Regions from separate parts of the Homo sapiens genome. Here region 1 is linked to region 2. Evidence: fine-mapped expression QTL. A gene starts in region 2. The other region holds a variant in brackets. All regions are shown on one strand. Distances are between the middles of the regions.

What was found.
Region 1: its variant is fine-mapped to the expression of GPR183 in monocytes (TOPMed, PIP 0.98).

What each region holds. Positions count from the first base shown.
Region 1 is chr13:99,430,690-99,436,065 of GRCh38, reverse strand. LNCARGI (lncRNA antiviral response interferon signaling inducer) reads left to right here and starts at 3,316. Exons shown (of 2, transcript NR_197585.1): 1 at 3,316-3,679. RefSeq lists enhancers at 2,740-3,469, 2,477-3,676, 3,920-3,999, 4,010-4,189. The variant A/G (reference allele first, on the strand shown) is at 3,187.
Region 2 is chr13:99,305,027-99,310,402 of GRCh38, reverse strand. GPR183 (G protein-coupled receptor 183) reads left to right here and starts at 3,004. Exons shown (of 2, transcript NM_004951.5): 1 at 3,004-3,063. The region is part of intron 4 of UBAC2 (UBA domain containing 2); the gene reads right to left.

The sequences.
Region 1 (5,376 bases), 130 kb before region 2:
AGAAGTGTGAGACAGGACCTGGTATATACAGGTACTTCATCTGTTGTAAGATAAAAAGCTATTAAATGTAGCTCTGCTATAAAGAAATTCTTTTTCTTGGAGCCTTGAGAAGCCAAGCGGTTACTCTAAAATGCTCTGGGACAATTATCATGGAGAGCTCAAGGCAGTTGAGGAACACAGACTCTGTGGTCTTGACTATATTTATTTTCTTCTTTGTGTTTGCAAACATGTGCCATGCTTTCTACAAGAGCATGAATTATTATAGTTTAAAGATTCACATTCATCAAAGCCAGTCCCAGCTGAGGCAGATACAGGTGAGTGATACACGATGGGGTGCATGCTGAGGTCAGGGAATCCATTCATCAGCACGTTTGTATTCAGATCTCAGTGTGTGCATAGCACTGCGCTTGGTGAGGAGGGGAGACAGGAGGCGGAGCCACAGTCCTGCCATCAAGGGGGAGGAAAGGGATGGAAGGGAAGGGACCTTTAGCATTTATTGTACCCCAGACACAGTTTATACACATGTGACTCCCTTAATATTCACAAAGGACCTCTGAGGAGCTGTTATTATGATCCTCATCCTGCAGAGGAGCAAACTGAAGCCCAGAATGGGAAGCTACTCTGCCAGGTAAGAGCAAAACCTGCACCTCCGGAATCCCTACCTGCCCTGCTCTGCCAGGCTTAGGCCCACGAAGGATTCATTAACAATGTCAGGCAGGCAGTGTGGACCATGGTAGGGGAAATGCCCCAATGGGAAGGATAAAGGAGTTTTGGCCGTCAGTGACTCTTATTTGGGAAACCAAGAAATTGCCTGGACTTTCCCAAAGGTACAGGGAGGTTTGGACGTGTTAAACTGGAGCCCACATGGTGGCGCGCACCTGTTGTCCCAGTGACTGAGCTGGGCTTGAGCCCAGGAGGTTGAGGCTGCAGTGAACCATGGTCCTGCCACTGCACTCCAGCCTGGGCAACAGATTGAGACCCTGTCTCAAAATAAAAATAAAAATAAAAATAAAAAAAGTGGAGCCCAGCTGGAGGCAGAGACAGGCCCAGCAATGAAGAAACAGTGAGCTGAGAGGGGTGGAGAGAATGGGGTCCCTGCATGCTTGCCAGAGTTCCCCAAGGCATTTCCAGTTAATAAGTAAAATGTATTTAAAATGTGAAGACTGGCTGCCAATCCCTCACGGAACTCCCAGACTGGACTTACTTTCATCATCCTCTTGGTGCTGTTGAGCCAGGTGCGTTTCTAACAGCCCTGCTGAAAGACAGCCAATGGCGTAAGACTTTTCTTTTTTCACATAAAAACCCACTAAGCTTCCCGCAGACATCAGGCCTTTCACCTGACTCAGGGCCCGCGGTTATACCTGTGTAGACCTACGTTAGCAAACAGCGGCTTATCGGAACTCGGGCCCTCTGACATCAGCCAGGAAGGAGCAGGCTATGCTGCTGGGAAGTGCAGGCCTGAAAGGCTGTTTTTCTTACTGAGTGAGCAGTAAGGTCACCCAGATAACCCACTCCTGAGTCACGAGGCCTTTCTGACCTATGACTCTGGAGGGCAGCTCTGTTTATTTCTTCTTTGTGGTGACAATGTGGGTGTCACCTTGAGGAGCCCATTGAAGAAGTTCATTGAGTGAGAAGACTCGGCCGGGTCTCCGGGGCCGCTGTAACAGACTCAGGGCTGCAGTAACAGACTCAGGCCACCGTAGCAGACTTGGGGCCTCTGACGACAGAAATGTATTTCCTCGCCGTCTGGAAGCTGGGAGGACCTGGTTCAAGGTGCGGGCAGGGCTGCTTTCCCCTGAGCCTCTCCACAGTGTCTTCCACCAGGGGCTTCACGTGGTCTTCCCTCTGTGTGCGTCTGTGTTCTAATCACCTCTTCTTGTAGGGACACGAGTCATGGGACCTTTTTTAATCATAATCACCTCTTTAAAGATCCTGTCTCCAAATACAGTCCCATTCTGAGGTACTGGAGGTTAGGACTTCAACCTACAAATATGTGGGGGTGCAGTATGCCCCTGACTTCGCTGGAAGTGATGGAGGTGAAGTTGGTCAATGGTTTCCAATGCTCTGCTCTCCCTACACTGATCGGGGACTGGCCTCTGTCAGGCCTTGTGAGGTGCCTGTGCCCACCCACTGTGAGCCAAAGATGGAGGCTCCCAGAGAAGATAGTCCCAGCCCTCCCCCACTAGCCTGGAACCCATCCTTCCAGCTCAGATCACACTCTGAGGAAAGAGATCCCTAATCCAGGCAGCTCAGACACCTGCTAGGATTCTCCAGACCCCCGCGAGAGCGCACCCTGTGGTCCCGGGAGAGGGCAGAGTAAGCCATACCTCAACAGCACTCCACCTGCTCAATGGCATGAAACAGTTCCACATCTGCTGGACCTGGAGGAGGTGTCTTCCTAGGTCACCTACATGCAGGGCACCATGGCGATTTGGAGATACAAGTGCCACACACAGAGACAGAGCCACGGCCTGCCTTATCCAGCTGCCCCCAGCATTTTTTAAAAAATTAGACAGGGTCTCACTCTATTGCCCAGGCTAGAGTGCAGTGGTGCAATCACTGCTCACTACAGCCTTGCGCTTCTGGGCTCAGGTGATCCTCCTACTTCAGCCTCCAGAGTAGCTGGGACTACAGATGTGCATCACCATGCCCAGCTAATTAAAAACAATTTCTTTGTCAAGACAGGGTCTCAATACAATGTCCAGGCTGGTCTCAAACTCCTGGCCTCAAGCAGTCCTCCTGCCTCGGCCTCCCAAAGTCCTGGGATTACAGGTATGAGACACTGTGCTGGGCCCCTGTCAATTTTGGAAGGATCCAGTTGTGTTTCTTCATTCATTTAACACATATTTGTAGAAAGCAAATCCGTGCCAGGCATAGATGCTTGAGATTCATTAGCCAACGAAACAGAAAACAACCTGTGACCTCATGGAGCCTCCATCCCTAGCGGGACGGGTACAGCAGGGGCTTCACCCAGAGAGGCTTCCTGTGAAAACGCCCACTGGGTCCTGGGGAACTGGGAATCCCCGGCCGCTTCTGCACAGGGCTCCTGGGTGGTTTCCTGTTTCGGCTCCACAGCCGGGGGAAGTTTCTGCTGTTTGCTCCTCTGCACTCTAAGCGGAGATGTGCACACTCGCGAGCAGGGATTTTTCTGGTTCAGGAAAGTCCTGCGTCCTTGGGCGCACTTTC[A/G]CAAGTGTGAGAAAGCCAGTTCAAATGTGACTTCCCGTGAGAAACCCTGCCTGGCCTCCCGCCCTCCCCGGCACTCTCAGCATGAATCATGCTGCGTTGTCACTATTGTCTTGCTCATCTGTGCCTGTCGCATTCCCTGAGTTCCTCCTGGCGGGGTCTCGGCCTTGTTCATCTTTGGACCTGGTGGCCAGCACAGAGAATGTGCTCAATGAATGTTTGCTGGATTGAATGACACACCCTCAGGTCCAAGTGGGCCATGCCCCTCTGCCTGCAGCCTGGTGGCCGTCAGGGTCAGGGCTCCCATGCTTTCTGATACCCGGGAGGATGGGTCTCTGACCATGGGATTTTGAAATAGCAATGAGCCTGAATAACATTTTGAGATACTGGCAACAACGAAAGTGTGGAATGAAACTTCCCGTTATTTCTGCTGGCTAACACTAAGTGGTTGCCACCTATGTTCATAATACAAGGAACTGCTCAGTTTCAACCAGAGGTGAGTGAAAACAGATGTCATTGTTTTCCCATGTCAGTTCATGAGCCCTCTGGGTTGTATTCTCAGGTCGCTCGAGGGTCCACTTGTGCTCCATTTAGAACCTCCGGACTCTACCGCTCATCCCCCAAGTTAGCCTGTCACCTTTCAACTCCCAGGGGCTCAGGTGTCAGGGCCTTCGCGTTGCACCTTAGCCTTGGTGTAAGTCACGTGCCCTCAGCTCCTGCCCCTCTCCCTGAGTGACGTCCTCTCTACAGACAGAACTGGGCACTTTCTCCTGCTCCCCAGTGGACCCGAGGCACGAAAGCCTCAGCAAGCAGGGAGTGACAGGCACAGACCACAGCAACCACCCGCAGCCGGAGCAGAGTTCGCGCTCTCCCAGGGGCCCTCCTTGGTGGCTTTGGGGGGGCCTCAATGCCAGGGTTTGCATCTTTTCTTTTCTTTCTTTTTTTTTTTTTTTTTTTTGAGACGGAGTCTCGCTCTGTCGCCCAGGCTGGAGTGCAGTGGTGCGATCTCAGCTCACTGCAAGCTCCGCCTCCCAGGTTCACACCATTCTCCTGCCTCCGCCTCCTGAGTAGCTGGGACTACAGGCGCCCGCCACTACGCCCGGCTAATTTTTTGTATTTTTAGTAGAGACAGGGTTTCACCGTGTTAGCCAGGATGGTCTCGATCTCCTGACCTTGTGATCCGCCCGCCTCGGCCTCCCAAAGTGCTGGGATTACAGGCGTGAGCCACCGCGCCCGGCCGCATCTTTTCTTTTTCTCCTTTTTCCCAACTACTGCTGTGCTTTCTGGCTTTGTGCCTTCCTTCTTTGCTTCCTCTCCCATCACTCCACAGACAAGGAGGCTCTGTCCAAGCTCCTGTCCTGGCTCGCTCAGCCCAGCCTTCAGGTTCTCAGCCCAACACGAGGGTCTCCTTGGGTAGTCAGCTCAATCATTTCAAGCTATTAATCAACGGACTTCTCCTGAATGCATCCAGACCTCTCCTCAAGGTTAGTTTTGATGAATACAATTTTCTCCATCTTGTTACAACAGGGTCAACGGTTCTTTGAAGAATCTTGCTCCTTTGGGACTTTTTTCCCACGGATGTGCCCTCTTTGGGGGCAAAGACATGATCCATATCTATCACCATCTCCTCTTTTTCTGCAATCACTGGACACCTGTTCATTTGGGGCAACCTAGGGCAGCCCAGAGTCCCTGTGGAGTCCTTATCTCATCGGGACGCTGGGTGGGACACGAGTAGTTTATGACAAACAGGTTTTTCTGACAAACGCAAGCAGGAGGAATCATTAGGGAATTGATAATGTAATTCACTGCACTGAGTCGTACAGGCATCTCAATAGACACCCCAAAAAGCATTTGGCGAATGTGAATATTGTTGATGAAACTCCTAGCAATCCAGGCTCAGAACACCTCATTCCTAACTTGGTAAGGGTGGCTACAGAGACTCTCAGAGATTAAGACATATAACAGCGAAATCTAAGAGAACAGGGGTGCCTGCCATCACTGCTTCTCTCCAACCTTGTAATGTGGGTCATTGTCAATGTAGTAAAGTCAGAAAAACGGGCACGAATACTAAAGTGAACAAAACCAAAATTGTCACCATTCCAGATGATGTGACAATATGCCTAGAAAATCCAAGACATCAAATGAAAACCTAATCTGAGAGCTTGGTGACATGGTTGGATACAAGATTGCCAT
Region 2 (5,376 bases):
AGATGAGGCTGGTAGCACAGAAAAGAGAAAGCAGGTTATAAACATTTCATCCATCCTTTCTTTTTTTCTTGAGACACCGGTATCTGTCAGTCACCCAGGCTGGAGTAGAGTGCAGTGGCATAATCACGGCTCACTGTAGCCTCTAATTCCTAGGCTCAAGCAATCTTCTCGCCTCAGCCTCCAGAGTAACAGGGACTACTGGTGTGTGCCACCACACCTGGCTAATTTTTAAACTTTTTTTAGAAACAGGGTCTCGCTGTGTTCCCCACAGTGATCTCAGACTCCTGGCATCAGGCAATCCTCCTGCCTCAGCCTTCTGAATTGCTGAGATTACAGGCGTGAGCCATTGCTAATTCATCCTTTAAAATCACTAATATTTACTGAGCATCTACTGCTATATATTCATGATCGCACTCGATAGAAAACATAAAATAACAGAGACACCTTGTTAAGGTTGCAAATGTCCATTTCACTTCTTCTATAGAAAAGGTCACTGGATGTGGTGGCTCATACCTGTAATCCCAGCACTTTGGGAAGCCAAGGTGGGCAGATGGCTTGAGGTCAGGAGTTTGAGACCAGCCTGGGCAACATAATGAGACCTTGTCTCCACACACACACACAAAAAAATACAAAAATTAGCTGGGCGTGGTGGCATGTGCCTGTAGCCCCAGCTACTTAGGAAGCTGAGGTGGGAGGATCACTTGAGCCCAGGAGGCAGAGGTTGCAGTGAGCCAAGATCGTGCCACTGCACTCCAGCCTGGGCAACAGAGTGAGACCCTGTCTCCAAACAAACAAACAAAAAAACTGTAAAGGCCAACTCTACTTTTACAGTACAATCACAACTCAAGAAACCCTGGTAACTTTCAACAGCAATAAAAACAAGGTTTGTGAGCTCATGAAATGATCTAATATACAGCTTCAGCGGCCTCTTACAGGATAATGACCCCATCACCTCTTCTTCATCTGCCTGACTACTCTGATATCAAAAAAAAGGGGCTGGGCACGGTGGCTCACACCTGTAATCCCAGCACTTTGGGAGGCCAATGCAGGCAGATCATGAGGTCAAGAGATTGAGACCATCCTGGCCAACATGGTGAAACCTTGTCTCTACTAAAAATACAAAAATTAGCTGGGCATGGTGGCATATGCCTGTAGTCCCAGCTACTCGGGAGGCTGAGGCAGGAGAATTGCTTGAAGCCGGGAGGTGGAGGTTGCAGTGAGCCGACAGCACACCCCTGCACTCCAGCCTGGTGAGAGCGAGACTCTGTCTCAAAAAAAAAAAAGAAGGTTGGGAGGACAGATCCAGTTTGTCAGAGGAATTACTTGAACTAGCTGAGTCCTTCACTATATAAAAATGTTTTACTTAATATAACTATTTCAAAATTAACAGGCAAAACCCCACCAGAATGGTCTTTCAACAAACTGAAAAATTTATCAACAGTGTCTTCTTCAAGTACTCTGCAGCCTAAGTTTTAAATGAACTAGTTCTAGAATATGATGTCATGTTTATCCACCAAGTCATAAAATCTCTGTATTACCCCCTCATAGAATTTTTGTACTAGGAATTACCTTGGAGATCATTTAGTTCAATACCTTTATTTTATACACAGTGAGGTGGCGGCCCAAAGAATTCAGCTGACTTGCTTGATGCTCTTTCTTGTGTCTGACAATGTTCCTCCATACTCACAGCACTTTAGACGTTAGAAGAACCTAATGACATCTGTGGGAGGCAAAAGCTACTCGACTATTTTTACAGAATCCTGGAGCAGAAAGGCTTCTGAGATCACAGAGTTACAAATTCCTACCAAATGATTCAATTCTGTTTACATCATCCCTCAAAATCATCAAGTTTACTCAAGCATCTAAATAAGAAACAGCATATTCCATTTTTCAAAATAATCACAACTTTTGGGAATGACTCTCATCTTTTGATCCAAAAGCTATGTCCAGTAACTTCTTACTGACCCTCCCGCTAGTCTCTGGAGTTAGGAAGACTGACACAAGCAATGTAAACACTTTTCTATGAGAGTTTCCACAAGCATAAGGATAATGACCCTATGCCTACAAAGCATACACATCCCCAGCTTATTTAATCAGTTCTCCTAAGACCTGCTATCCAGGCCCCTCACTGCCACAGGTGTTATCTATGTCTTCGTAAAAAGCAGCACCCAGAAGTGGCTGGGAATGGCCAGATCAGTCCTGACTAAGTGTAAACATCACCTCTCCTGATCTGAGTGCTACATATCTGGTAATTTAGCCTACAAATAAACTGCATTCTGACAGACACGTTAGTTGGTTTAAACTGAGTCAACTACAACTATGAGGTGAATGGCATGAGTCTCTTTCACCCTGTGCTGAAGAGGCTGGATTTTATCTATAATGGGCCTCCCTTCAACTGTTTCCCTGTTATTCAAGTACTCACACAGCCTCTGACTCAGGCAGCCTCTCGACTGAAAACGGCGACTAATCCAGTCCACTCCACATCCTGGACTGTCACTCACCCCCACGCCACAGAAACCTGTTTCTTTCTCATAAGCTGTGGATAAGGTGGAATGTGTAAACTACTCCCTGATACCAAGTTTCCAGGTAAAAAGCACTGTCAAAGTTGACACTATTTTCCTTAAAACATTTAAAAACCCATACTTTTACATGCAAAATCAATATAAAATCATCAGTAACTTGGTCTTTTTTTTGGTTAAGGTTTATTGCTTCAGTCTCTTTCAAAGAATTTTTTGATACTTAAACCTTTACAGAAAAATTTATAAAGTTCCACAGATATCAACAATTCATAAATTCCAAGGGGCTTTTGGATAGTTTTTTTTAATCACTATAAAAAATTTCACTTCCCATTTAAAACAAAAAAAAACACAAAGTGCACACACGTACACGAGGCTAACTGCTCATTACATGCTCAGTCACAGGGTGACAGAGAAAAAAAAAGTCACCACCATAAAAGGAGGTCTGCACAGCCTCTCTTAAAACAACATGCCACAGTTAAAACTTACTTCAGTTTGGACAACTACTCACAGCTACTACACAGAGACCCGAACGAGTCACTGATATGTAAGTACAAGATCTTTTGCTTTTTCAACAAACTTTTTAAAGAAAAACTTTAAAAGCCTAAGTTTTAAGGTAAAAGGTAAAAAGGAAAACAATCTATTTAAGAACAAGCTACCATCACTTCTAACAAAAATTATATTAATAATGTAAGTTTACTCTCTCTGCTGACTGGTAGGTCTAGTTAGTTCTTATAAAGTTGACTGAAAGCGATGGGTCCACCAGAAATATCTTTGTCAAAAAATAGGGCTCACTTCATGTACTACTGTATAAACTCACAATGACAAAAGACAGTATCAAGCAAAACTATGCAAATAATGCCAATATTTCAGGATAACTTAGTATGAAGGAAAAGGAACAAAGTTATTTTAATATAGAATATTCCTATGCTATAGGAATTATTAGAAATATAAGATTATTTCTCAGGATAGAATCTCAGGGGTAGAATTCCTAGGGCAAAGGGTATATTTTCTAAAGCTTTAGATATAAAACGGTACTTTTTGGTCTACAAAAACATTTTACCAATTTACCCTCCCGCCAGCAAAGAGTACCAATCTTTGCTTTTTAAATGCTAAATACTACTAATTAGATAAGTGAAAAAAAAGTCTGTTGTGTGGTTTATACTTGTGTTTACTTAGACTAAACGTATCTTTTCTATGTGCCTGAGGGGAAAAAATCACAATGAATTCTATGCAGTGCTTTGGCAACATTTATGTCCAGGTTGGGAATGGTGGTAACAGAAACTTGGCAAAATAGAAGCTGTGAAGAGACTTCCTTTAAAGGGCAGTGAGGGTTTTATATATGTGTGTTTGTGTGTGTGTTGGGGGAGGGGGGCGTGGTATTTTGTTTTTTTGGTGTCACTCTGAGTACAATATAGTGTAATAAGAGCAAGGGCTCTGAAATCAGGATCAAATGAAATTTACAAGCTGTGTGGCCCCCCCACACACAAGTTACCTAATATCTGGCTTCAGCTGCTTTACCTGTAAAATGGGGAGTATTACTACTGCCAAGTCCTTACAACATTGCCTCTCATTATAAGTGCTAAAAAACTGTCTCCCATCATTCTTCTCCCATCTCTCTGGCCACTGACGTACCAGAGGGTGAATCCAACAGATATGTTATGGATATTTTACATAAAGACCCTGAATCAGGCTGGGTGTGGTGGCTCACTCCTGTAATCCCAGCACTTTGGGAGGCCGAGGCAGGCGGATCACCTGAGATCAGGAGTTCGAGACCAGCCTGGCCAACATGGTGAAACCCCATCTCTACTAAAAATATAAAAGTTAGCCAGGCACGGTGGCACTCACCTATAATCCCAGCTACTCAAGAGGGTGAGGCAGGAGAATCCCTTGAACCTGGGAGGCGGAGGTTGCAGTGAGCCGAGATTGCGCCACTGCACTCTAGCCTGGGCGACCATGCGAGACTCTGTCTCGATAGATAAATAAATAAATAAATAAATGGCCCTGAGTCTATGGATGATCACACATCTAACTGTGCTTACTGGTAGGACTGCACACTTCTTATATTTTAGCATGTTTTCTCTCTGCGGGTTCACTGCACTTTTTGGACATAAAACCACAAAGAATATGCTACTCCACAAAATGTTCACTCACATGTTTATGTATCGCGTTAGTGACAATGGTAATGATCCCTTGCATAAATTACTTTCATCTGGCTTCCTAGAGCTAATTAGTACCATGACCAGTCAGTTAATGGAATAAATATTAACTCAGGTTTCTATATGACTTTAATTCATTTATTTATTCTATAGATATTTACTAGATATCTATTGTAGGTTGGTTCTGTAGCATTCTATAGGATAAAATGTTGGATGAGATCAAGTCATCATCCTCAAGAAGCTTACATTTAAAAGAGCTTCGCACCTAATAAAGCCGTTTACAGGGATACTTTTCTCTCTGCTATGGTTAAGACCTGCTGGAGTTGTTAGGCAGCCCTGGACGTGGCCTGTGTAGAGGACGCGTGGTGTTCTCCAGTCTGGGGGGTTTATCACCTTCTCAAGAAGTCTGGGCATTGTATAAAATGAGATAACACATGTGAGAATCCTCTGAAAGCTGTGACAGTAACACAGATGGCTGTGGTGTTTTGGAAGCCCAAAGAGAAGAATAAAAATATTTTGTTAAATCTCTGCAAATATCTAAAAAGTAGTTTAAAAATCAATTAACAGCATAAAAGCCTATTCTAGATATTCACCATCTTTTTTCAATCGAAATTTCAGTCTAAATTGTTTTATTATTAAAATACTGTTAAAACAGTACTCTAAATCCATTTATAAAACCTTTACTTACTTTAAAATATGCT